Homo sapiens: one gene and its partners. The protein of the gene in region 1 interacts with the protein of each later gene in a pairwise test. Each region holds a gene or a part of one and is shown in the gene's direction. Other genes may lie near its edges. The genes, in order: CIP2A, RBM5, CSPP1, CEP152, SMC5, CENPC and NEK2.

What was found.
Region 2: the proteins of CIP2A (region 1) and RBM5 interact in a two-hybrid assay, tested with the Homo sapiens proteins (one large-scale study listed by BioGRID).
Region 3: the proteins of CIP2A (region 1) and CSPP1 interact in a two-hybrid assay, tested with the Homo sapiens proteins (one large-scale study listed by BioGRID).
Region 4: the proteins of CIP2A (region 1) and CEP152 interact in a two-hybrid assay, tested with the Homo sapiens proteins (one large-scale study listed by BioGRID).
Region 5: the proteins of CIP2A (region 1) and SMC5 interact in a two-hybrid assay, tested with the Homo sapiens proteins (one large-scale study listed by BioGRID).
Region 6: the proteins of CIP2A (region 1) and CENPC interact in a two-hybrid assay, tested with the Homo sapiens proteins (one large-scale study listed by BioGRID).
Region 7: the proteins of CIP2A (region 1) and NEK2 interact in a two-hybrid assay, tested with the Homo sapiens proteins (one large-scale study listed by BioGRID).

Annotation. Positions count from the first base shown.
Region 1 is NC_000003.12:108,568,939-108,572,438, reverse strand, and holds part of CIP2A (protein CIP2A), read left to right. Parts: intron 1-2,831; coding exon 2,832-3,050; intron 3,051-3,500.
Region 2 is NC_000003.12:50,095,419-50,098,918, forward strand, and holds part of RBM5 (RNA-binding protein 5), read left to right. Parts: intron 1-3,500. UniProt on the Homo sapiens protein: Component of the spliceosome A complex. Binds to ssRNA containing the consensus sequence 5'-AGGUAA-3'. Regulates alternative splicing of a number of mRNAs.
Region 3 is NC_000008.11:67,158,392-67,161,891, forward strand, and holds part of CSPP1 (centrosome and spindle pole-associated protein 1), read left to right. Parts: intron 1-55; coding exon 56-205; intron 206-599; coding exon 600-746; intron 747-3,419; coding exon 3,420-3,500. UniProt on the Homo sapiens protein: May play a role in cell-cycle-dependent microtubule organization.
Region 4 is NC_000015.10:48,752,070-48,755,569, reverse strand, and holds part of CEP152 (centrosomal protein of 152 kDa), read left to right. Parts: intron 1-3,100; coding exon 3,101-3,221; intron 3,222-3,500. UniProt on the Homo sapiens protein: Necessary for centrosome duplication; the function also seems to involve CEP63, CDK5RAP2 and WDR62 through a stepwise assembled complex at the centrosome that recruits CDK2 required for centriole duplication.
Region 5 is NC_000009.12:70,345,978-70,349,477, forward strand, and holds part of SMC5 (structural maintenance of chromosomes protein 5), read left to right. Parts: intron 1-601; coding exon of another isoform or gene 602-627; coding exon 628-672; intron 673-1,088; coding exon 1,089-1,184; intron 1,185-1,635; coding exon 1,636-1,740; exon of another isoform or gene 1,741-1,744; intron 1,745-1,941; coding exon 1,942-2,061; intron 2,062-3,500. UniProt on the Homo sapiens protein: Core component of the SMC5-SMC6 complex, a complex involved in repair of DNA double-strand breaks by homologous recombination.
Region 6 is NC_000004.12:67,535,504-67,539,003, reverse strand, and holds part of CENPC (centromere protein C), read left to right. Parts: intron 1-3,500. UniProt on the Homo sapiens protein: Component of the CENPA-NAC (nucleosome-associated) complex, a complex that plays a central role in assembly of kinetochore proteins, mitotic progression and chromosome segregation.
Region 7 is NC_000001.11:211,669,122-211,672,621, reverse strand, and holds part of NEK2 (serine/threonine-protein kinase Nek2), read left to right. Parts: intron 1-1,337; coding exon 1,338-1,420; intron 1,421-2,214; coding exon 2,215-2,341; intron 2,342-3,289; coding exon 3,290-3,500. UniProt on the Homo sapiens protein: Protein kinase which is involved in the control of centrosome separation and bipolar spindle formation in mitotic cells and chromatin condensation in meiotic cells.

The DNA of each region.
Region 1 (3,500 bases):
AAATGACGCTGGGTCAATTGAATATACATATGGGGAAAAACTGAAATTTGACCCCCTTCCTCATACCAAATGCAAAAATCAGTATAAGACAGGTTGTAGATTTAAATGTGAAGAGTAAAAATAAGGAACGTTTTAGAAAAAACACCTAAAGAGTATCTTCATGGCCTTGGGGTAGACAATGATTTTCTTAAACAGGAAACAAAAGCACTAACTATACAGTAAGAAAGTCGATAAGTTGGGCTACATTAAAATTAAGTTTCTATTTATGAAAAGACCACTAATAAAAGAATGAAAAGTCAAAGAATGGGAATAGATATTTACAATGCATATATCTAACAAAGGACTCTTATCCAAAATATATTATTTTTCTACATTGTATGTATATATCCGAAAAAACACAGAGCCGAACAGATACTTGAGCAAAAAAGTTGAATTGGTCAATAAACATGAAGTGATTTACCACTTTATCAATCTTAAGGGAAATGCAGATTTAAATGGTAGTATCATACCATCTGACACCCACCAGTTGATTAAAATGAAAAATAAGGAAAATAGCAAACATACTTTAACTCTCATTTAGTACTTACAGAACAACCAATTATGAAAACTGGTATCTATTAATACTGGGCATATGTATAAACTACGACCCAGAAATCTCACTTATAGGTATTTATCCCAAAGAATTGTTTACATGTGTACAAAATGTAGTACTGCTCCTAATAGCTAACAATGATAACCCAAATGCCATTAACAGTGGAATATGTTCATTTTGGGAAAGTCATCTAGCTCTGCACTAGTAATTAGTTTTTTTACTTTTATATGTGTACATTAAAAGAAAACTAATGTACATGGAAAGCTATCTGCTTCTATGTTTATAACGGACATATGGTAAGATACACAAACAATTGGTAACATTGCTTGCCTACAGGGTTTGTCTTTTGAACCATGTGAATGTATTACCTATTCAAAAATAAATATAGTCATGCATTACATAATGACATTTTAGTCAATGACAGACACAGACTTCTTATTGCCTATGACATTATGGCCATTCTAACATGGTGGTGCAATGCATCACATGTGTTTGTGGTGATGCTGGTGTAAACAAACCTACTGAGCTGCCAGCTGTATAAAACTATAACACATATTAAGATTGTATACAGTACATAGTATTTTGATAAACGTGTTACCACTTATTCTTTGTTATTTTAGAGTGTACTTCTACTTATAAAAAAGTTAACTGTAAAACAGCCAGGCAGGTCTTTCAGGAGGTATTCCAGAAGAAGGTATTGTTGTTATTAGAGATGACAGCTCCCTGTGTGTTACTGCCCCTGAAGACCTTCCAGTGGGACAACATGTGGAGGTGGAAGTGGTGTTGATTACCCTGGCCCTGTGTAGACCTGGGCTAATGTCTGTGTTTGTGTCTTTGTTTTTAACAAAAAAAGTTTAAAAAGAAAAAGCCTACATTTTAAAAATAGAAAAAACTGATAGACTACAGATGTAAATAAAGTATTTTTGTATAGCTGTACAGTGTGTTTCTCTTACTACAAAAGAGTCAAAAACTTTAAAAATGGATAGGTTTATAAAGTTAAAAAGTTCTGCTAAGCTAAGGTTAATTTATTAGAGAAATTTTAAAAAATAGTGTAGCTTAAGCATACAGTCTTTATGAAATATACAGCAATATACAGTAATGTCCTAGGCCTTTACATTCACTCACTACTCAGTCATTAACTCACCCAGAGCAACTTCCAGTCCTGCATGTTTTGTTTATGGTAAGTGTCCTATACAGGTGTACCGTTTTTGATCTTTTATACTGTATTTTTCTATGTTTAGATACACAAGTACTTACAATTGTGTTATAGTTGCCTACAGTATTTAGTACAGTAATATTCTGTACAGTTTTGTAGCCCACGGGCAATAAAGGGACGTAGTAGGCTCTACCATCTAGGTTTGTGTAAGTACACTCTTACGATGTTCACACAACGGAATTAATGATGCATTAAGCAACATATGCATCACTAAGTGACACATGACTGTACTACAGTTTATTAAAGATTATCATTTGTTATAGTAAATGCTAATGGACTGGATTCTTTTAAATTCAGATACTATCAAGTTGATTAAAACACAAATCCCAATTATATATCATTTGTAAGAAACAGACTTTTAAAAAGTTGGAAATAGAGAGACAAGGAGATCTTAAGAAATTTTTTTTTTTTTAGTGATAAGTTGGTAGTATGTGAAATGAGGTGGAATTTATCTTAACATCTAATAAACTGGTTGATGGGGGATGTTATGGTATAAGGCCCAGTTTATAAAGTAGAGGAAAAATGGGGTACAGTAGGAGAGCTAAGGGTCATAATGCCAACCGTATGCAAACAGTGTGGAAATAACCATCCTGAAGGTTTTATATTCTATGCTACAGTATCCTTTATAGCGGTTATTGAATTTTAGGATTATAACAAGTATTACTAATTCTAATTTTATTTTTTAGGGTTTTTTTGGTCATTTATAAACAAAACAGGTTTCTGTTTAAAAATAATTTAAGTACTATGGAAGGAGTGGGAGGAGTTTAACGTTGGCTGAAGTTGACCTTCCCTCTGAGGTTCTCACAGTCCTGCTTATCAGGAGTAACCACCATTAATAAGTTTATTTTATAATCTTCTAGAACCTATTCACACATTTGAAAAATAATATTGAAAGAAAAAACTTAAGTTTTGTTTTAGAATATTTTCTTTAAAATATGTAGCATTTTCAGCTTCATCATACACTTGCTTTGTATATTAAAGTTCTGTGAAATTGATGTTTAATGAACACTTTATATTGCACAGGTTTTAGAATTACTTCTTGCCTTCTGTTCAGTGACTCAGCTGCGCCATATGCTCACTCAGATGATGTTTGAACAGTCTCCACCTGGCAGCGCCACTCTGGGAAGCCATACTAAATGTTTAGAACCTACTGTGGCTCTACTGCGCTGGTTAAGCCAACCTTTGGACGGATCAGAAAACTGTTCTGTTTTAGCATTGGAGTTGTTCAAGGAAATATTTGAGGTAATAGGATGACTGACAGATTGACTTTTCTACTTTTGTGACTCTCAGTTAACAATTTGTCTTCAAAAACATTCTTTGTAAACTTACAGTTCATACACTTGAGGAAAACATCTCAATTACTAACAGTCATACTAGACTCGCTAGGTTTTTTTCTGCCAGTCATATATATTAGTGTTTTCCTTTTTTTTCACTGAGTAGTGTGTATGTATATATATATATAGTGCTCATTTCAGTGTAATAAGTAAAGATATTAAAAAGATTTATATAATTTGTTGCCTGACTACTGGGGATAGTTACATTGTCTCTCCATTGCAATAGATGCCATCTACCAAGTTTAGTAGGCCATTGAATGGACAATAGAGGCATATTGGATTCAGTCAGTGAAATGGAGTAGAGCATGCCAGATAATGTGCTAGGCACTTAAGATACAGACAAAACTCCACATTCTGG
Region 2 (3,500 bases), about 58 Mb from region 1:
AACTACCCATTTGAAACCTCAGAAAAGCTTGTTAAAAAGGACGGCTCATTCAGACTGGCCAATTAGAGTCTTAGTGTACTTGGCACTGCCTGATTTCCAGCAGCATCTCTGGTCCTCACCCTTCCTTCCAGCCACACCCTACTTTCCACATCCTGGACTTTGGACATGTCCATTGCTCTACTGTTGTGCCTTTTTCTGCTTGGAGACGCCTGTATGTAAAGCCTGATCTATCGGGCAGAGCTTCTTCTTCGTTATTCTCTTCCTAAGGCACTGTATTCATGACTTTTGTGTAGCACCTTTACTGTAGCCATCAACACACATGTCTCATCTCTACCACAAGATCTCTGAAAATAGGCCTCTGTGTGAACTAGTCACCTCTGTGTCCCCAACCCTTGAACACAGTATGTTACTCAGCCAGTGCTCTTGGTAAAAATGAATGTGAGGTTTTAAAACAGCAGTGTGCCAGTATTTGTTTTCTTGGAGTAATCAAAGTAATATTCTGACTAATGTTTAGTTGAATTTTGGATAAAGCTCAAAATAAGCATTGGATTCCCGTAGCTTTGGGTTTCTAAACCCTGGAAGTAATGAATGTGACAAATGTGAGACAGGATATTAGAGTTAATAGTGGGTAATCATTCCATTATTTGTGATCCACTGCACATCTGCTACACTGTACATGTTAGATGCTACAGTGACACAGAGCTATGGATCTTGCCTCAAAAAAGCTTATGGATGAGTAGCTAAGGTCAGCAGATAATGGTGACAATGCAGAATAGAAAGGGGTCAGAGGCCGAGTATGGTAACTCATGCCTGTAATCCCAGCACTTCGGGAGGCCAAGGTGAAAAGAGTGCTTGAGCCCAGGAGTTCAAGTCCAACCTGGACAACATGGTAAGACGCATCTCTCCAAAAAAAAAAAAAAATAGCCAGTCTTAATGGCGCTTGTCTGTGGTCCCAGTTACTTGGGAGACTGAGGCAGGAAGATCACTTGAGCCTAGGAGGTCAAGGGTACAGTGAGTTGTGTTCACGCCACTGCACTCCAGCCTGAGCGACAGAGCAAGACCCTGTCTCAAAAAGAGGGTCATGTCGGAAAAGGTCCTATTGAAAGAGGTCTGCCTAAGAGCTCTTGAAGGTTATTTAAAGGAAATTGTTACTAGTGGAGGGTAAGGAATCTTCTATTTTTATTTTTGTGAGACAGGGCCTTACTCTGTCGCATAGGCTGGAGTGCAATCGCGTGATTGTGGCTCACAGCAGCCTCCAACTTTTGGGGCTCAGGCAATCCACCAGCCTCAGCCTCCCAAGTAGCTGGGATTACAGGCATGTGTCACCACTCCGAGCTAATTTTTTTTTTTATCGTTTGTTTTTTTTTTTGTAGAGACAAGGTCTCTCTTTATTGCCTAGACTGGTCTTGAACTCTTGTCTTCAATCAATCCTCCCGCCTGGGTCTCCCAAAGTGCTAGGATTATAGGCGTGGAAAACTAAGGGAATGGTGTGGTAGATGGGCCCTTCAGGCGGAGGGGTATCACATGAGCAGGGAATAGAAAGGTACTGAATCTAGATAAGGCCTAGCAATCGGCTTGATTTGGCTGGAGTCAGAGGCTTTTGGCAGGAGAGGGATGAGTGGCAAAGTGCTATTGTGGCTAGGGGCTAGAGTTCTCAAAAGTCTAGCTAAGCCTAAAAGAATATTACTGAGGGTTGGCCAGGTGCGGTGGCTCACGCCTGTAATCCCAGCACTTTAGGATTCTGAGGCAGGCGGATCACAAGGTCAGGAGATCGAGACCATCCTGGCTAGCACGGTGAAACCCTGTCTCTACTAAAACTACAAAAAAATTAGCCAGCCGTGGTGGCGGGCGCCTGTAGTCCCAGTTACTCAGGAGGCTGAGGCAGGAGAATGGCATGAATCTGAGAGGCGGAGCTTGCAGTGAGCCGAGATCGTGCCATTGCACTCCAGCCTGGGCGACAGAGCAAGACTGTCTCAAAAAAAAAAAAAAAGAAACTGCTACAAGTATTGATTTGAGTGTTAGAAATTTTAATGAGTGGTTGAATTCACAGGTGTGATACCTGAGGATAATGAGGATTGGCTGTGTGTAGTCTTGCAGCCGTTGCACCTAGTTATGGAAAGTAGAGGCCAGTGAGAATCTTGTTTCCACAAATTTCACCCTGTTTTTTTTTTCATGGTAGTATTCATGCCTGATATTATTGATGAAGAGACTAGTATATTTTTGTGGCCTTTTGGAAAAAGGAGTTGGTCTGACATTGGAACAAGCCTACCAGCCAGAATACTTTATTCTAGCCCCAATTAATGTTTGATTTATTAGGAGCCTAAGAATGTGATGAACTTTGAAAATTTTTACCAATAATTTAACTGTAAGAAAAGTATGATCCATTAAAAATGTTTACCTGGCCTGGTGCGGTGGCTCACGCCTGTAATCCCAGCACTTTGGGAGGCCAAGGTGGGTGGATTACCTGAGCCCAAGAGATGGAGACCAGCCTGGGCAACATGGTGAAACCCCTCTCTACTAAAATATAAAATATTAGCTGGGTGTGGCGACATGCGCCTGTAGTCCCAGCTACTCTTGAGGCTGAGGCAGAATTGCTTGAACCCAGGAGGCGGAGGTTGCAGTGAGCCGAGATCATGCCATTGCTCTCCAGCCTGGGCAACAGAGTGAGACTCCATCTCAAAAAAATTTAAAAAAAAGTTTATCATCAGGCTCTTCATTTTTTGGCTGTTGATTTTTTTCCTTATTTTGAGAGTAGGCCTCAAAGAGCAGGAAGGCTATTCTTGATTAGGCGTACTTCAGGGCACAGTGACGCATCCACTGCCTCTTTTAAATCTCATCTGAGTCCTTATTTTTATTTTTTTATTTTTTTAAAGATAGGGTTGCACTTTGTCACCCAGGCTGGAGTGCAGTGGTGCAATAGCCCATTGTAACCTCGAACTCCTGGGCTTAAACAGTCCTCCCACCTCAGCCTCCCAGGTAACTAGGACTACAGGTGTATACCATCATGCTTGGGTAATTTTTATTTTATTTTATTATTTTTTTTTGAGACGGAGTCTCACTCTTGCCCAGGCTGGAGTGCAGTGGCGCGATCTCGGCTCACTGCAACCTCCGCCTCCCGGGGTCAAGCGATTCTCTTGCCTCAGCCTCCCAAGTAGCTAGGACTACAGGCACGTGCCACCACGTCTGGCTGATTTTTTGTATTTTTAGTAGAGACGGGATTTCACTGTGTTAGCCAGGATGGTCTCCATCTCTTGACCTCGTGATCCACCTGCCTTGGCCCCCCAAAGTGCTGGAATTACAGGCGTGAGCCACTATGCGAGGCCTAATTTTTAAAATTTTTGTATACAGATGGGGTCTTACTGTGTTCCCCAGGCTGGTCTCACACTCCTGTGCTCAAGCGCTCATCTTGCCTCATCTTCCCAAAGCGCTAGGATTATAGGCTTGAGCCACTGTACTATCCTGCAGAACAAAGGACAGGGAGATTAGACTAAAGGATGGAG
Region 3 (3,500 bases), on another chromosome or scaffold:
ATATTCTAACTTTTCAATAGTTTTACAAGATAAATAACTAAGTTTAATTCTTTAGATTGAGGAAAAGAAACAAAGAGAGGAAGCAGAGCGAGAGAGACTGAGAATTGCAGAAGAAAAAGAAGAAAGACGGCTTGCAGAACAGAGGGCACGAATTCAGCAGGAGTATGAAGAGGAACAGGAAAAGAAAAGAGAGAAAGAGGAGGAGGTACATCTTTTTTCCCTATTGTATTTTACTACTTAGTCTGAAGGTGAAATCTTTGACTTGAAAAGGTATTTCTTACTTATAAAGGAGAACAGTGTTGGAGTACATTTAGAAAATATCAGATCAATATACATTCTTTGGATATTATTTTATTAAGGTGAAAGGGTAATTTAAGAAAGGAGATAAGTGATGACTTTAAAAATATAGATGTAGGCTGACTGAAGACTTTATAAAAGATGCCTAATATTTTATTTTTAAGCAGACAACTTATGTTAAAGAACACCATATCATGTCATCTATATCTTTATCTCATTTTATCAGATAAATAAGGCAGCACATTTTTGAATGTACTATAGAAGGAATATATGGAATGCATATTTCTCTTTTTATTTTAAAGCAAAGGCTAAAAAATGAAGAGCATATTCGGTTAGCTGAAGAAAGACAAAAAGAAGCAGAAAGAAAGAAGAAAGAAGAAGAAGAAAAATATAACCTGCAACTTCAGCACTACTGTGAAAGAGACAATTTGATTGGGGAAGAAACAAAGGTAAGTTTCAGACAAAAATGTCAATCAAACCCATAGTTTAACTCACTTTCACTGTGAGAGTTGTACAGTTGTTAGAAAAGGGGAGAAAGAGGAGGAGGTGCTTTTGTTCCTGTTCTGTCTTACTGTTTAGTCTGGGCACAATGTACTGAACTTTCTGTAGGAGGTACTGTCACTGTGCTTTGTTGGTATTTTCTGTCCATTGAAGGTAATGGATTTACTTACTTGAGCCATTCTTAGTCTCATTCCCATGGTGTATGCGGTGCCACCCAAGAATATGGTCTGCAGACAGTACAACATGAACTGTTTGTTATGGTTCATGACAAGACTAATACAGAAAGTGAGAGTGGTTTATATATATATATATATGTATTCTTTTTTTTTTTTTTTTTTTTTTTTTTTTTGAGACATAATCTCGCTCTGTTGCCCAGGCTCTGGAGTGCAGTGGCACAATTTTGGCTCACTGCACCTCCACTTCCTGGGTTCAAGCAGTTCTCCTGCCTCAGCCTCTCAAGTAGCTGGGACTACAGGCACACGCCATCATGCCCAGCTAATTTTTGTATTTTTAGCAGAGACGGGGTTTCACCATGTTGGCCAGACTGGTCTCAAACTCCTGACCTCAGATGATCCACCCACCTCTGCCTCCCAGAGTGCTGAGATTACAGGAGTGAGCCACCACGCCCGGCCTTCTCTCTCTTTCTTTCTTTCTTTCTTTCTTTTTCTTTCTTTCTTTCTTTCTTTCTTTCTTTCTTTCTTTCTTTCTTTCTTTCTTTCTTTCTTTCTTTCTTTCCTTTCCTTCCTTCCTTCCTTCCTTCCTTCCTTCTTTCTTTTCTTTTCTTTTCTTTTCTTTTCTTTTCTTTTCTTTTCTTTTCTTTTCTTTTCTTTTCTTTTCTTTTCTTTTTCTTTTTCTTTTTCTTTCTTTTTGTTTTAAGAGACCAGGTCTTGCTATGTTGCCCAGGCTGATCTCAAATTTTTGGGCTCAAGTTATCCTCCTGCCTCAGCCTCCCAAAGTGGTGGGATTGCAGGTGTGAGCCACCACACCCTGCCTCACAGATAATTTTTTATTGTAAAATTCATCATTTAAGAATTTAAGGTCGAGGCAGGCGGATCACTTGAGGCCAGGAGATCGAGACCAGCCTGGGCAACATGGTGAAACCCCGTCTCTATAACAAATACAAAAATTAGCTGGGCGTGGTGGCAGGCACCTGTAGTCCCAGCTACTCAGGAGGCTGAGGCAAGAGAATCGCCTGAACTTGGGAGGCGGAGGTTGCAGTGAGCCGTGACTGCACTGTGGCACTCCAGCCTGGGTGACAGAGCGAGACTCCATCTCAAAAAAAAAAAAAAAAGAATTAAACAGAATTGTTAGTTTCCCATAATTATATTTCTTGTAATTTCTTATGTTTTTTAAAAATGCTATTTTTTAAGGAATATATACTTTTATGATATTATAATTTAATTGTAAAGTACCATAAAGTTTTAAATCAGCTTTATCCCATTTAATGCATTTGCCTTTCTGAAATTAACATTGCTATCATTTTCTTTCATTTATGTATGTCTGATATATATATATATTTTTGTCTATTCCTTCAGTTTTACCTTTGTGTCACCATATTTTTTATTTAGTTAGCTTCTATCTTTAGTTTGTTGAATTTTTAAAATCCTAATCTGAGTTATAATCTTTTTATTTTTATTTATTTATTTATTTATTTAGAAATAGAGACTCGCTTTGTTGCCCAGGCTGGAGTGCAGTGGTGCAATCTCGGCTCACTGCAACTTCCGCCTCCCAGGTTCAAGTGATTCTCCTGCCCTAGCCTCCCCAGTAGCTGGAATTACAGGTGCAAACTACCACACCTGGCTAATTTTTATTAGAGACGGGGTTTCACCATGTTGGCCAGGCTGGTCTTGAACTCCTGTCCTCAGGTGACCTGCCTGCTTGGCCTCCCAAAGTGCTGGGATTATAGACATGAGCCACTGCACCTGGCCTAATCTTTTAAAATAGGGATATCTAAATCCATTTATGTTTATCAAAACTAATGTCTTTGCATTAATTGCATTTCTGACTTTTTTGTGTTTTTCTTCCTTGATAGCTTTTTGGTCTTTTGTTATGTGTACTATGGCTTGTTTGCTCCATCCTCTACAGGGATTTAGAATGTCTATGTTGTATTTACAATGAAGTTTTTGGACTATAAGGTTTAATACACTATAAACTGAAATATAGAACCCCATCGTGATCTTGAAAAGTCCCTCATCCATGATGCTGTTAGTGATTAGATCTAGATTTTCGAGGTTGATTTGTATTGCTTTCCAGAAGGATTTTGTTATTTAATTTTTTTGTATTGTCATGGTACCTTTTTATTATTAAAGATGATTCTTTAGTTTTGTTATATTTTTTCTTTTTTGTTGCTTTACTTGTGTTTGTTGATTTTTTAAATCCTAATCTGACAGTCATACTGTTTTAATAAAGATGTCTAAATCCATTTATGTTTATCATAACCAACATGTTTGATCTTATGTAATTGAATTTCTGACTTTTGTAGAAAGCATTTTATTAAATAAAAGCAATAACAATCTAAACTTCTTAGATGACTTTCTTAACTATAAGGGGTGTGTGTGTGTGTATATATGTGTGTGAGTGTGATGAAGCAAATATGCTCTTAAATTTTTTAAATTTTTCAGCACATGAGACAGCCTTCTCCTATAGTTCCTGCTCTTCAGAACAAAATTGCAAGCAAACTCCAAAGACCTCCTTCAGTTGAC
Region 4 (3,500 bases), on another chromosome or scaffold:
ATACCTATGTAGTAAACCTTCACGTTCAGCACATGTATCCCAGAACTTAAAATAAAATAAAGAATATATGCTGTTCTTTCTAAGGGCCTGAGATTTCAGAAACTGAAAATTTTTTTTTCAAAATTCTGTTTTCTGGGCCTGACCACTTCATGAAATATGCATAATAAGAGTTTCTTAAAAGCTTGTAAAGAGTTTGGAAGCCTATTTATTGCCCTCAATAAATTTATGTCTCATTTAGGCAAAAAAATGCCAACCAAGTACAAAGGTATTGATATAGAAACAAGCAAATAAATACGACTCACTCGCATAAAACTCTGAAGCCCAGTTTCTGGATGTACTATATATGTGCATATAGAATTAATTATATTCTTTTAGTTATATAAGTACTCTCTGAGACCAGCTTTTAATTTGTATGAAAGTTTCAGTAAAACCAAATTCTTGCTACCTTATGATCAAAGCAATTAGGTATGCATGAAAGATCCAGAATGATATTCTGAGCATGGTGATTAGCCAATTTCAACATTTGGGATTAGAGGCAGGAAAAAAAAAAAAGCCAGTATTATAAGGTTTGTCTAATAGAGTTGAGACTTAAGAGTGAAGTTCCATCAAAATATTGTGATTAAGGAGTTTCAAGGCCAGGATTGAGCATTTGGTATTAATACCTACTTGGGAGAGTTATAAACTAGAAAAAATAACCTTGAGTTTCAGTTCCATATTCGATGATAACTAGATTATTATATTGGGCAATCACATAGTTGCTCACTGGAAAAATAAAATACAAATCCCCGGCCTAATTCCTTGGGTTTGGGTAGGATATGCATGGCACAGCTTAGCCTTTCTGGGTCCTGCATTTGAAACAGTATAGAATTTTAGAGCCAGAAGGGACCTGAAAGATCAGCTCACTCCATCCTACTTCACCCCAGTTGATATTTTTATCCTTGACCTCACAAAGATGTTGCTACCGAGTAGTTGCCTTCAATGTAAAATTTACTGGGCAAGATCACTTCCCATGAATACTGCTTCACACTTAATTGAGATTTTTTGGAGAAAATAATTAAAATAACTTGGAGAAAACATATAATTAAAAAATTATAGCAGATTTGGAGATGAGAAATGATGGGAAAATCATGTTTACATGCTTTCGTTTGTAAGCATGTTTCGATTTTTATAACAGTTATAAAATCTGTTATAAAAATCAAGAAACTATGACACCTTTCTCCTACCATTAATATATACATATAAAATCAACCCTGGAGTCTTTTTACAGGGCTTATAATTGTGCAAGCAGTATAAGATCATCTGTGTGACTTAATGAGGCTCATAAGTCTATGGAGACAGAATCACATAATCTGGCTAAGAATTTAGATGTTTACGGCTTTTGTTGGGTGGGTCAGATTCCATTCCTGAGAAAAGGATGGCTTTGAAATGCCTAATCTGGAATTTGTCATAGAAGTAATACTTGACCTTCTGCCATTTTCGAGCTATCTTCACTCAGGACCTTGAGGTAAAGCTATGATTATAGAGCAGTGATTTTAAATTTGTTACATAGGTGCTGTAAATGTGAGGAACTATAATTTATAATTTATTAACTCTCTAGTTTTAAAAATTGTTCATGGAAATTAAAACAAAAGATGGTTTATTAATATATAAAAACAAGTCCTCATTAAAATAACTGAGACAATCAAAAGTTTTTTTAAATGGAGAGGATGCAATGAATGAAAAATATAGCTTTCAAGAAAATGAATGCCATATCAAAATATATTAATACAGTAGTTCATAACAGATAAAACAAATATCAAATGGAACAAAATTTTCAAGCAAACTTAAGGATGTATGTTGTCTCTTTTACCATCAAAGTCAAGTTAAAACTGAGACAAAAAGGTTGTTGCTTTTCTCCCTTTTCTGTTATCTTGACTTTTCTTCCCCAGTTTTGAGTAAAAACTGGAAGCACTGACTGCATTTTGGTTCAGCTTTTCCTACTCCTTTTGACCTCAAACCCATAGCTTCTTGATTGCCTCTTCTCTATAATTGCTAACCTCTGCTTCTGTTGGACATTGTAAGTAGGTTTTCTGACAGTCAATTAAGTGGTTTCTCATAATCAAAATCAAGGCTTCTAGAATCAGGCATATATAGTATGTTTTAAATAATCAGTAAGACTACTTTCTCCATACCACCTATTCTGTTCCTTTCCGATTTAGTAGTCATCTTAAATCTGAAAACATTACCATAAAAATCCATTGATTTGGCTGAGCGTGGTGGCTCACACCTGTAATCCCAGTACTTTGGGAGGCCAAAGCAGGCGGATCACGAGGGTTGAGGCAGGAGAATCGCTTGAACTGGGAGGTGGAGGTTGCAGTGAGCTGAGATCGCGCCAATGCCCTTCAGCCTGGCCGATAGAGGAGGACTCCATCTCAAAACAAAAACCAAAAATGAAAAATCCATTGATTTAGTAGCTGTATTGCTGTGACAAGGACTGGAACATAAAAACGTTCAATAAATATTAGTGAAGAAATGGTCTTGTGCAAGATGTTTAATTTAGCTAAGCCTCAGTTTCTGTCCTTAACTTTGGCATTCAGCTGGCCTTCCTTACAAAATTACTGTGTATGTTAAAGTATTTAGAAGCATATGAAGTACTATATAAATTTAAAATGATTTTTAACTGTTATTTTCAATTCATAGGAGGCAGAGGGTTAGCATTATACTTGCTAATTAACTTGTTCCTTGCTGTAGTAAAAATGTTCTAGATTTTCAAGAACAATTCTGATTTTATATTGTCTTTCATGTGGTTTAATCACGTAAACCATTGAAAAATCTCAAATTCACATATATAATGTGCAAACCATATCTTCTGTCTGTCTCATAGCTGCCCACCAGTCGCCTGTCAGACAGTGTTCTTATTTGGAAAGTTTCATAGGAAGCTAGTTCCTAGTACAGTGACAGTACTTATATAACACCCTAAGAAAAATATTGGCGATAGATAGTTCAGGCAAGATTTTTTTCAGGTAGTGTTTTCTCTTTGTATTTTTAATATTAGCATTTTAAATATAAAATTGTATAAAGATTTTTACTAAGCATTAACTTTGAAGATACTTTATTTCAGAGAAATATGGCCGAGCTCTCTAAGGATTCTGCCAGCCAGGGCACTGGCCAAGGAGACCCTGGACCTGCTGCTGGACACCATGCTCAGCCCTTGGCCTTACAAGCAACAGAAGCAGAAGCTGGTAATTGGATTTTGTTCCCACCAGTCTTTGTAGCATCCATAATCACCCATCTGAAGGGTTGCTTTGAGGATAAAAGGAGATCATAGATGTGAACAAATGGGTAATAATCGTCTGACTTAATGTCCCCTCTTCCTAGATTTCATTTTGTATTTAGATAAGAGGGTTAATTTAGGCCCTCTTCTTCTATTTATGGTTTTCCCTTCATTCACAACTGATTCTTGTTACAAGGAGAATCATGAGAGTTTTAATGGAGAAGTCATGTTTTTATTCCCTGAAATC
Region 5 (3,500 bases), on another chromosome or scaffold:
GCTGATGGATTTGACATGAAGGATGAGAGAGAGAACCCCTAAATTTTTCACCTGAACAAATTACGATGCCATTTACTGGAATGGAGAAGATTGAAGGAGAAACAGGGTTGCTTAAAGTGATAGGGAAGGTGGGTGAAATCCAGATTCTGTTTCACCATCTTAAATTTAAGATGCCTATTAGAGTCAAGTGAGGATATCGAGTAAATAAATGTTGGACACATGAGCTTACATCTCAGTAAGTCAGAGATTCAACAGAGGAATATTTGAAGGTCTATAGAGGTTGAACTGCTTTCTAAGAGGTTAAAATAATAAGTTTAAGATATTAGATTAATATGTCAAGATCTTTTTCAGGGTTTCAGGATTCATTTTGTACCATGTAGTATATAGCCTTTGCAGGTTGTGCTAGGCCAAACAATGTACTGATTGCCTCCCCTCAAAAAAAAAAGTATATGTTCTAATTTGTCCCCATGGCATGGACTCAGAAGATAGTACTGTGGTGAAATTCAACTGTCAAAGTAATTAGATTCTCAGGATGCTTTTTTAGTTCTTCATAAGTGCAGTATAAAGTTCTAACTTCTTGCTCTCTTTCAATGCCCCACATATTCTGGACCCATTCTACCAATTCAGCAAGTACCCACCATTCCAAATGGACACAACTCCTCACTCCCCATGGTATGCAGTACTCATTCTTTTTTCCCAAGCTCCTGTTTTCCCTCTGCCTTGCTCCTCCCTAGCCATTTGCTTTAAGGCCCGGAGATGAATTCTAGGCCTTTGAATTCTCTTAACTCTCCTGTAGCATGAACTGATACTTCTTTTCTCTAAATTCCTAGCCTATATGATATGTACTGCTTGTTTTAATACTCAACATCAATACATTGCCTTAAAGTGTTATCCAGTACATACATTTTGTTTTCTTTAAAGTACAAGCTTTTGAAGGCAAATGACCCTGTTTATTATTCCTTTGTATTCTTGTGTGCCAGCATGCTGTTGAACAGATAGATAACTTATTCAGCAGATTATTTTTCTTTTAACTATTTGAATGGAACTGTTTTCATTGTATCTATAATGACGGGCAATTTTTTTCTTAGGTTTTCCAAGACCTTCCAAACACATTGGATGAAATTGATGCTTTATTAACTGAAGAAAGATCAAGAGCTTCCTGCTTCACGGGACTGAATCCTACAGTATGCCTGTTTCTCTATTCCCATTCTGCATCCAACCACCACCACCACCCTCCCCATACACACACATACACACACAGAGTTCCCTCCAGTACTTGCCTCCCACTCTGTACTAGAGCTCTTGGTAATAATAAGCTAGACAGCAGGAACAATGTACTTTAAATGCCAGATTCTGAATCTATTAGAATTTTAAATAGATTCTTCCTAAGGAACACAATGTTCTGTGCCTTTTCTTTATAAAAAGAATAGTTGGGCTAACCTGAAATACTGCAATGTCTATTTTTTCAAGGATAAAAAATGTCACTTTCAGTATGTAATAAGAGCATATATTATTTGCATACAAACAATGCAGCACAATTGGCATTTTCATTTAATGTTTTAATCAATGCAAAATTGTATATAGTTTTATCCTTTGGTAGATTTATCTTAAAGAAGTTTTTTTTTCCCCTGCCAGATTGTTCAGGAATATACAAAAAGAGAAGAAGAAATAGAACAGTTAACTGAGGAACTAAAGGGAAAGAAAGTTGAACTAGATCAATACAGGGAAAACATTTCACAGGTAATTTTTTAGTTTTTAATCTTTTTATCATGTGATTATTAATGAAATGGGAATGTAGAATAATGGAAAATGAGATGACATGCTTCTAAGAGAAGTGTGTTATGCCCAGACTGATACTGATATAAAATTTACATAAAATTGTGTGTCAGAATATAGTAATACTGCTTTTAAATTGTGTTTTTATATTGCCTTTATTTGTAGGTAAAAGAAAGGTGGCTTAATCCTTTAAAAGAGCTGGTAGAAAAAATTAATGAAAAATTCAGCAATTTTTTTAGTTCCATGCAGTGTGCTGGTGAAGTTGATCTCCATACAGAAAATGAGGTAAAATTGCATTTGAAATAAATAATATTTCTGGCAAATAATTTTAATTATATGCTTAAAGTACATATAAATTATTTATTTACTTTTGAGTTATATCTGTGAAAAGTTTTGTTTACCAAAATGTTGAAAGAAAGGAGAAAACCACCTGTGGGATTCCATTAGGGTCACTTTTTTTGGGGGGGGTTATGTTTGGAATTAGTGACTAATACCTTGTAACTCTTTTTATACATCTGAGTAATGGTTATTCAGTTGTATTGAATAAATACGTTATAAAGCTACCACAGCTGGAGTTAGAAGACTCAAACAGATTAGTTTGAAATATAGTGTATATCAGTGTCTTTTTTTTTTTAATAAAGAATTTAAGAATTCATGGTCAGGTGTGGTGGCTCACGCCTGTAATCTCAGCACTTTGTGAGGCTGAGGCAGGCAGATAGCTTGAGCTCACGGGTTTGAGACCAGCCTGGGCAACATGGCAAAATCGCATCTCTGTAAAAATACAAAAATTAGCTGGGTGCGGTGGTATGTACCTGTGGTCCCAGCTACTCTGGAGGCTGAGGTGCAAGGATGACTTGAGCCTGGAAGGTGGAGGTTCCAGTGAGCCAAAATGGTGCCACTGCACTCCAGCCTGGGCAACAAAACCAGACCTTGTCTCAAAAAAAAAAAAGAATTTAAGAATTTATAAGAATGGAAATAGTGGGAAATTTGCTACTAATTTCTTGTGCTGTAAGTTTATGCATTGCAATTTGGGCTAAAATTAATTTTTCTTTAAGACAGGCAAAGGCCAGGTGCTGTGGCTTATGCCTAATCCCACTTTGGGAGGCCAAGGCAGGAGGATCACTTGAATTCAGGAGTTTGAGACCAGCCCGGGCAACAGAGTGGGACAGAGACTCTGTCTCAAAAAAAAAGTAACTACTAGAAAATTGAAAATTACATATGTGGGTTGTATTATATCTTTCTCTTGCTCAGTACTATCTTAGACCTTAAAGCTCTATTCAATTAATAGATAACCTTTAATTAGTAAGTTTCATGTTTTTCGTTTTGGTTTTTTGAGACAAAGTCTCACTCTCACCCAGGCTGGAGCGCAGTGGCGCAATCTTGGCTCACTGCAACCTCCACCTCCTGAGTTCAAGCTATTCTTCGGCTTCAGACTCCCAAGTAGCTGGGATTACAGATGCCTGCCACCATGCCCGGCTAATTTTTGTATTTTTAGTAGAGATGGGATTTCCCCATGTTGGCCAGGCTGGTCTCAAACTCCTGACCTGAAGTGATCCACCCCCCTCGGCCTCCCAAATTGCTGGGATTACAGGCATGAGCCACCACACCCGGCCTAATTAGTAAGTTATGTATCTCATTTTTAAGGTAAATCTGAACCTGACATAGAAGTGCCATCAATAAGAATAGTAAACCTTAGAGCATCCTCAGTTTTGGCAACATTTATA
Region 6 (3,500 bases), on another chromosome or scaffold:
GCTAGAGGTTCCTCTTCTAGGTAGAATGCAGTAAGTCACAGAAGGCTAACACTCCTGCTAAAGCAGCTATTTTAAAAAATGGAAACAAATTTTAGATATATGAGAAGCTGTGGAAACAATAAAGACTAGCAAAATATAGTCTGTGGCTAATTTTCTTCCCTTCTGAGGCAAAATTCTTCTCTACTGTGTCCCGTTACTTATGGAGGTTTTCCACTCTGGCTGGTAGATTATTCTAGGTCCTTTGTAACTGGGAGGATATTCCCCCTCAAGGCTTCGGGTGGTTCTTTCTCTGGTTTTCTTACAACGCATTCTCTGATCAATATTTGATTGAATGCTTGAGAGAGATCTGCACATTCTGCAGTTTTCTCTATGTAACCGTCTCCTGTCCAGTACTTTATCCTGCAAATTCTAACCACTTTGGTCTTCCTGAATCCTCAGCTTTGGCTCCTCAACTGAGGATTTCCCCTGTGTGTCACATCTGGAAATGGGTGATCAGAGGGTTCACCTCATTTGTTTCCCATCTCAAGAATCATTCTCTTTGGTTTTTCAATGTCGTATTTCTTGAGAATCTTGTATGTTTTTTCTTTTTTTAAAATTGATTCAGGCAGGAGGGTAAATCTGGTCCCTTTTAAGACATTGTGCTCTAAAGCCAAGGTCCACTGCAATGACTTCTAAATGACTTTAGGCCAAAGAAGAAAGCATGTTGGGAATATAAAATATTCTGAATGAAGATAATAATATGACTTATCAGAACTTGTGAGATTTAGCTAAAATAGTGTTAGAGGGAATTCATAACTTTAAATGTATAATAAATAAGAAATGTTCAAAATAAAGGTTCTACTCTGTGTTTGTACTGGTCTTGTAAAATGAGTTGTTCAGTATTTTCTCTGTCTCTTTTCTCCTGAAGTGTTTTTATGAACCACTATTGTTTCTTTCTCAAATATTTGATGGAATTCATAGGAGTTTTCTCTTTGCGAGAATTTTAAAATACTAATTTATTTATTTATTTATTTATTTTCTGAGACAGGGTTTCACTCTTTAGCCCAGGATGGAGTGCCATGACATGATCACAGCTCTCTGAAGCCTTGAACTTTTCCTGGGCTCAAACCCTTCCGTCTCAGCCTGCTGACTACCTAGGACTATAGGTGCATATCACCATGCTGGCCTGCTTATTTATTTATTTATTATTTCTCTATCTATCTATCTGTCTTGAGACAAAGTCTTGCTCTGTCACCCATGCTGGAGTGTAGTGGTGCTATCTTGGCTCACTGCAACCTCTGCCTCCGGGGTACAAATGATTCTCCTGCCTCAGTCCCCCAAGTAGCTGGGGTTACAGGCGCCCATCTCCACACCTGGCTAATATTTGTATTTTTAGTAGAGATGGGGTTTAACCATGTTGGCCAGGCTGGTCTTAAACTCCTGACCTCAAGTGATACTCCTGCATTGGCCTCCCACAGTGCTGGGATTACAGGTGTGAGCCACCGCACCCGGCCATTTTAAAATTTTTCTTTACAGAGGCAGGGTCTCACTGTGTTGCCTAGGCTTGTCTCAAACTTCTGGGCTCAAGCAATCCTCCTGCCTCAGCTTCCCAAAGCATTGGGATTACAGGCATGAGCACTGTGCCTGGCCTCACTTTTGTTTTCTTATGAAACATAATACATTAAAATACACAAATTGCGTGTATATTTCATTGAATTTTTACAACTACTACCTAGATGATGATATAGAACATTAAAGATTTAGATTTTACTTAATAGTTTCAGTAGACAATTTAGATTTTCTATTTTTTTTAAATGTTCTACTTTTCTTTTTTTAGGGATTTGTTCATTTTATTTAAATTTTCCAGTTTATTTGGATAATGTTGTTTTGTCATGTCTTTTTCCAGTCTTGTTAATGTCTGTAGGATCTACAGTTATATCCCCTTTTTTATTCCTGACATTGGTTATTTATGCCTTATCTTTTTTTTTTTTTTTTTTAATTAGAGGTAGGGATCTTGGTATGTTGCCCAAGCTGGATTAGAACTCCTGGGCTTAAGTGATCCTCCCTAAGCTAAGGAATAGCTGGGATTACTGCTCGTAAGTCACATGCCACTGTGCCTGCTATGCCTTGTCTTTTTCATCGATTAATTTTGTCAGGGTTTATCAATTTTGGTCTTTCAGAAAACCAAGTTTGGCTTTGTCGGTCCTCTCATTTGCTTGTTTTTAGTTTCATTATTTTTTTCTTAATTTTATTTTTCATATATTCTTTATTTTTATTTTTATATTATTAATTTTTTCTAATCCTTGAGATGGATGCTTCAAAACAACAGAGACTTTGTAGGTGTTAGGGTTTTTTTTTCAGGTAGGGCCTTTCCATGCAGCAAGCTTGGCCTAGGCCTTCCACATAAGGAATGAAATTTGTTTACTTGATTTGAAAATAAAATCAGACTTAAGACTTATCTATCTTATAGGCTTTTCTGTTTGCGAACTTGAGATTCCTAGGTCTAGTTATTACTTCATATTTGTTTGTCTTTAAGTAAAATAAGATATGACTCCGTAGGTTTTAACTGAAACACAACCGAGCTTCATGAAATAAATTAGTTTTTCTCTTCTGTTTTCTGGGATAACTTGATTAAGCAAAAATGATCTGTTTCTTCAAATTTGGATCATTTGTAAAACATATGGTTGGAGCTGTTTTGGTGGGGATGTGTGTGATTACCACTTTATTCAATGATCTATTGCATTTTTTATATTTCTTTTGCCAGTTTTGACATTTTATAATTTTCTTGAAACATTTCCTCTGTTCTCAATTTGTGTATAGTCAACTTCATGATCTTCCTCATAGTTATTACTCTCTTTTTATTGCTGGTTTTCACCTTTTTAAATTATCTGTGTTGTTACAGGTATTTTTCTGTCATTAACATTTTCAAAGAATCAGCAGTCTATTCTGGTTCACTATTTTATTCTCTTCCCTATCTTTTTACATACTTTTCTTCTTAATTTGTTGGAAGATTGATTTTTAAAGCTCAAAGGCATTATGTACATGGAAGTTAAAGTAGTTCCATAAATTCCACAAAAAAATAGTAGACCCCACTTTTCCTCCTCCAAGTCCAACTTTTTAGTCTTAGCTATTACTCTAGGTATTTTGACTCCATATTTCTAAATAATGTTTATATTGCTGTTTCTTGATTTTTTTTCCCAGTCTTTGCTATTATTTATTGGCTTTCTACTATGGAAGTTTAGACTTTATTTGTCATATAGTTTCTACTTCCGACCACAACACATAAACTTCCATTCTTTAGTACATCATAATTTTTAGTAGGATTAGTAGTTAGTGTTTATGGTATTATTATGACTGTTTCAGTAGTCACAGCTATGTAGAGTACTAATGGTTAAATTTTCTTTATGTACAGTTCTTAATTTTCTCTTGATTTAATTTTGGTTTTTCCATTTTTGACTTTCTGTGCACCTGTGACTAATTCATCACCAGTTTTCTATGACAAACGTCTAAGTATAAATGTC
Region 7 (3,500 bases), on another chromosome or scaffold:
TTTTTTAATATTTTACTTTTTATTTTAGACTTTGCATTTAAGAGGCTCTGTAAATGATTCTTGTGTATGCAGAATCAGAGCTCAGGAAGTTTGCTCACTTCAGATAGCATGTTTTTACAATGTTAACTTTTTGTACATTTTATTTTTTTGTTGCCTATCCCTGAAATATCTTGCTGAGTCCACTCACCAATTACCTCTATTGCTGGATATTTTGTTTCCAACATGTTTCACCATTCTTAGAAGTACTGCTCTGCATATCTTTGTATGAATTATTCTTTCTTCCTTTTTGGTTATTTCCTTGGAGTGTAGCTCATAAAATGAAATTGCTGGGGTAAATGTTTATGGCTGTTATTAGATATTGTCTGATGGCTTTTAAAAAGTTTAAGTCAATTGTGATAGCACTAATGTGTTAGTATATAACATCTGAACAGATAAAGATGAAGAAATATTTGTTAGTATTTTAGTAGTTCACCTTTCTAGGATTTTCCAAATATTTATAAATTATGTTAACAGATCTTACTATAGTATAAAACTTTGTAAATTAATGATTTTGGTTTTGACTAAAAATAGCCAGAACAGTACCATTTTCTCACTGTATCAAATTCCAAATAGAATGTTTTTAACATAAAGGACAATTATCCAGAAGTGGTTCTTGGGAAATTTGAAACCTATTCTTTTGTTCCTTTTCCCTCCTGCCCTTGTAATTAGAGTGGTTCAGCTTTCCTAAGGCACTGATTGTCAAAAAGTGGCATCAGACTCACCAGTTGGACTTTAAAACACTAACCAGCCACTAGAGATTGCTTCTATTCCCTCTGTTGAGAATAGGAGCTCTGGTAGGCTGTTGTTACTGTAGATGTGGAAGAAAGGCAAACAATAAAATAGGTAAGGATAATATTAGTTACTACTGTGATTTATGGAGTGGACTAAGACAAAATATAAATGGATAATTCAATTAGCTATTTATGTCTATATCCATTTAAATGTGGACTAGATACATATTTTGACTATTCTTAAATTTCCTCTAGTTCTTTTAAAATGGTGTTTCTTAATTTGCCTTGAGAGTAGAAGTCTCTCATATTCACCTCTGTATTGTCAGTGCCTAGTCTATACTAAGCACTTTCATTTGTGAATGGAAAATGAGTGAATGAATTATGTATGATGGAGTGTATTGGAACAAGATCATTGCCTTTTTTCCATTATAAATTTCAAGATAAAGTATAAGCTAAAAACTTTGAGGTTCTGTTTTTATCTCAGGAGTAATTTAATGTGTTTTTTAAGTTTCAAAACAAAATAAACTCTTAACACCTTCCACTTTCTTACCCTTTTTCCCTGTATAGGAACAAATGAATCGCATGTCCTACAATGAGAAATCAGATATCTGGTCATTGGGCTGCTTGCTGTATGAGTTATGTGCATTAATGTAAGTATGATGAAGACAGATTCCTAGTCTAAGGTTTGTACTGTTTGTCACATTTCACTGGGTTCAGTTTTTTGAGCCTCTGTGCTAACGAAAGTATATTCAAGTCTGAAAGAATTGTACCCTGGGTAAAATTAAGGTAGATAGATGAACAGGCTAAAAGAAACTATTCACAAATTAAAACTATAAGCCATGAGGCTGGGTCTTGACTGTTCAAGGGTCTTGGCTGGTTAGGTGCTTTCTTATTAGATTGACACTTAGCTCAAGGGAGAGCACATAGGTCAGGCAGGTAAGGTAAAGCTACTGTAAGGATGTGGAAGAAATGAAACAAGACTCGGGTAGAGGTCTGGGGATCTGTAGAGCAGGGAAGAGCTCCAATTCTTTTCCTTTGTTCTTCTTTTCATTTTCTTTCCCTTTGAAACTATTCTGTAGAGCAGTGATTCTCAACTAGGGATAAGGGAAGCAAATTTGCCTCTTATGGGGCATTTGATGATGTTTGGATAAATTTTTAGTTATCACAGCTGGGGAGTGCTTCTGGCATCTAGAGGGTAGAGGGCAGGGAGGCTACAAAATACCTATAATGCACAGGACAGCCCCCCACAACAAAGAATTATATGACCTCAAATGTCAATAGTGCCAAGGTTGGGAAACTTACTTATAAGAAGAAAATCCCAGAAGTAGAAACTTAAATACAAACTGGAGCTTAAGCTGTGCTTTTGATTTAGTTCCTATTGTATATTTTCATTTTTACAATTTGAAAATGTCTTCGTCGTCTTCTTCTTCTTTTTTAACCCTAGGCCTCCATTTACAGCTTTTAGCCAGAAAGAACTCGCTGGGAAAATCAGAGAAGGCAAATTCAGGCGAATTCCATACCGTTACTCTGATGAATTGAATGAAATTATTACGAGGATGTTAAACTTAAAGGTAAAGATGATAAGATGATATATTGTCTGTTTCTAGCTGTCAGTTAAGTGTCAGAGCATACATTCTCTCTTGTAGATCAATGGAGACTGAAGAAACGTTAAATATACTTTCTTAGCTAAATTTACTGTGTTAACACAAGTGAAAACATATGTAAATTTGGCAAATTGCACATCCTTGCTGGCCCACCTTCTGCGCTTTCTTTATTTCTCCTCCCACTCTGTCATGCTAACAGATGGTCGGTAGCAAGGAAAGATTGCAAAAAGAATTCAAATTCTCGTTCCCCTTGTCCTTGCCTACCTCACAGTGGCAGGTAGTGAGGGAAGGGGCCAGAAATAAGAGTTTATTACTCTGCCTCTAGCTCTAATTGAGAGATTAAAGACCAGAAGAAGGGGAGGGGTGATGGAGGGCGGACGGAGGACAGCTAAAAACAGAGGGAAAATCAATAAAGAGATTATGTGGAAAAACTCTGGCTATAGAATGGGGAAGGAGATGTTCTGGGGACCAGGCTGACATAAGAGAAGAAGGAAAATGCCGTAGGATCACAGAGAAGGATACAGATGAAGTGACAGGATTGAGAGTCAGTGAGAGAGTATCTTGCTAAATGTAGTTTAGAAATGCAAGGGCAGTACTTCCCCTAAAACAGACCCTAGCAATGCTACCAAGCCCCAGCACAAGATGTGCCAATCTTCAGGGATTGAACCTTCTTAGAAAGGTGAAAAGGGGAAAAGGGAAAAAAGGTAAGTTAACATCTGCATTACCTTGTGGACCCAGAACCTCATGAGTTAAAACCACCAGTGAACTTATTTTTCCAAGTTTTTAAGACCTAGCCATAAAGGAGTCCTTTCTTTTGTCTTGGAAACACATTTTTGTCCTTTTATTTTAACTGCTGTCTTAGGAGGACTATTCTGTTATGCAATCTGACTATAATACTGAGTATTTTTTCCCCAGGATTACCATCGACCTTCTGTTGAAGAAATTCTTGAGAACCCTTTAATAGCAGATTTGGTTGCAGACGAGCAAAGAAGAAATCTTGAGAGAAGAGGGCGACAATTAGGAGAGCCAGAAAAATCGCAGGATTCCAGCCCTGTATTGAGTGAGCTGAAACTGAAGGAAATTCAGTTACAGGAGCGAGAGCGAGCTCTCAAAGCAAGAGAAGAAA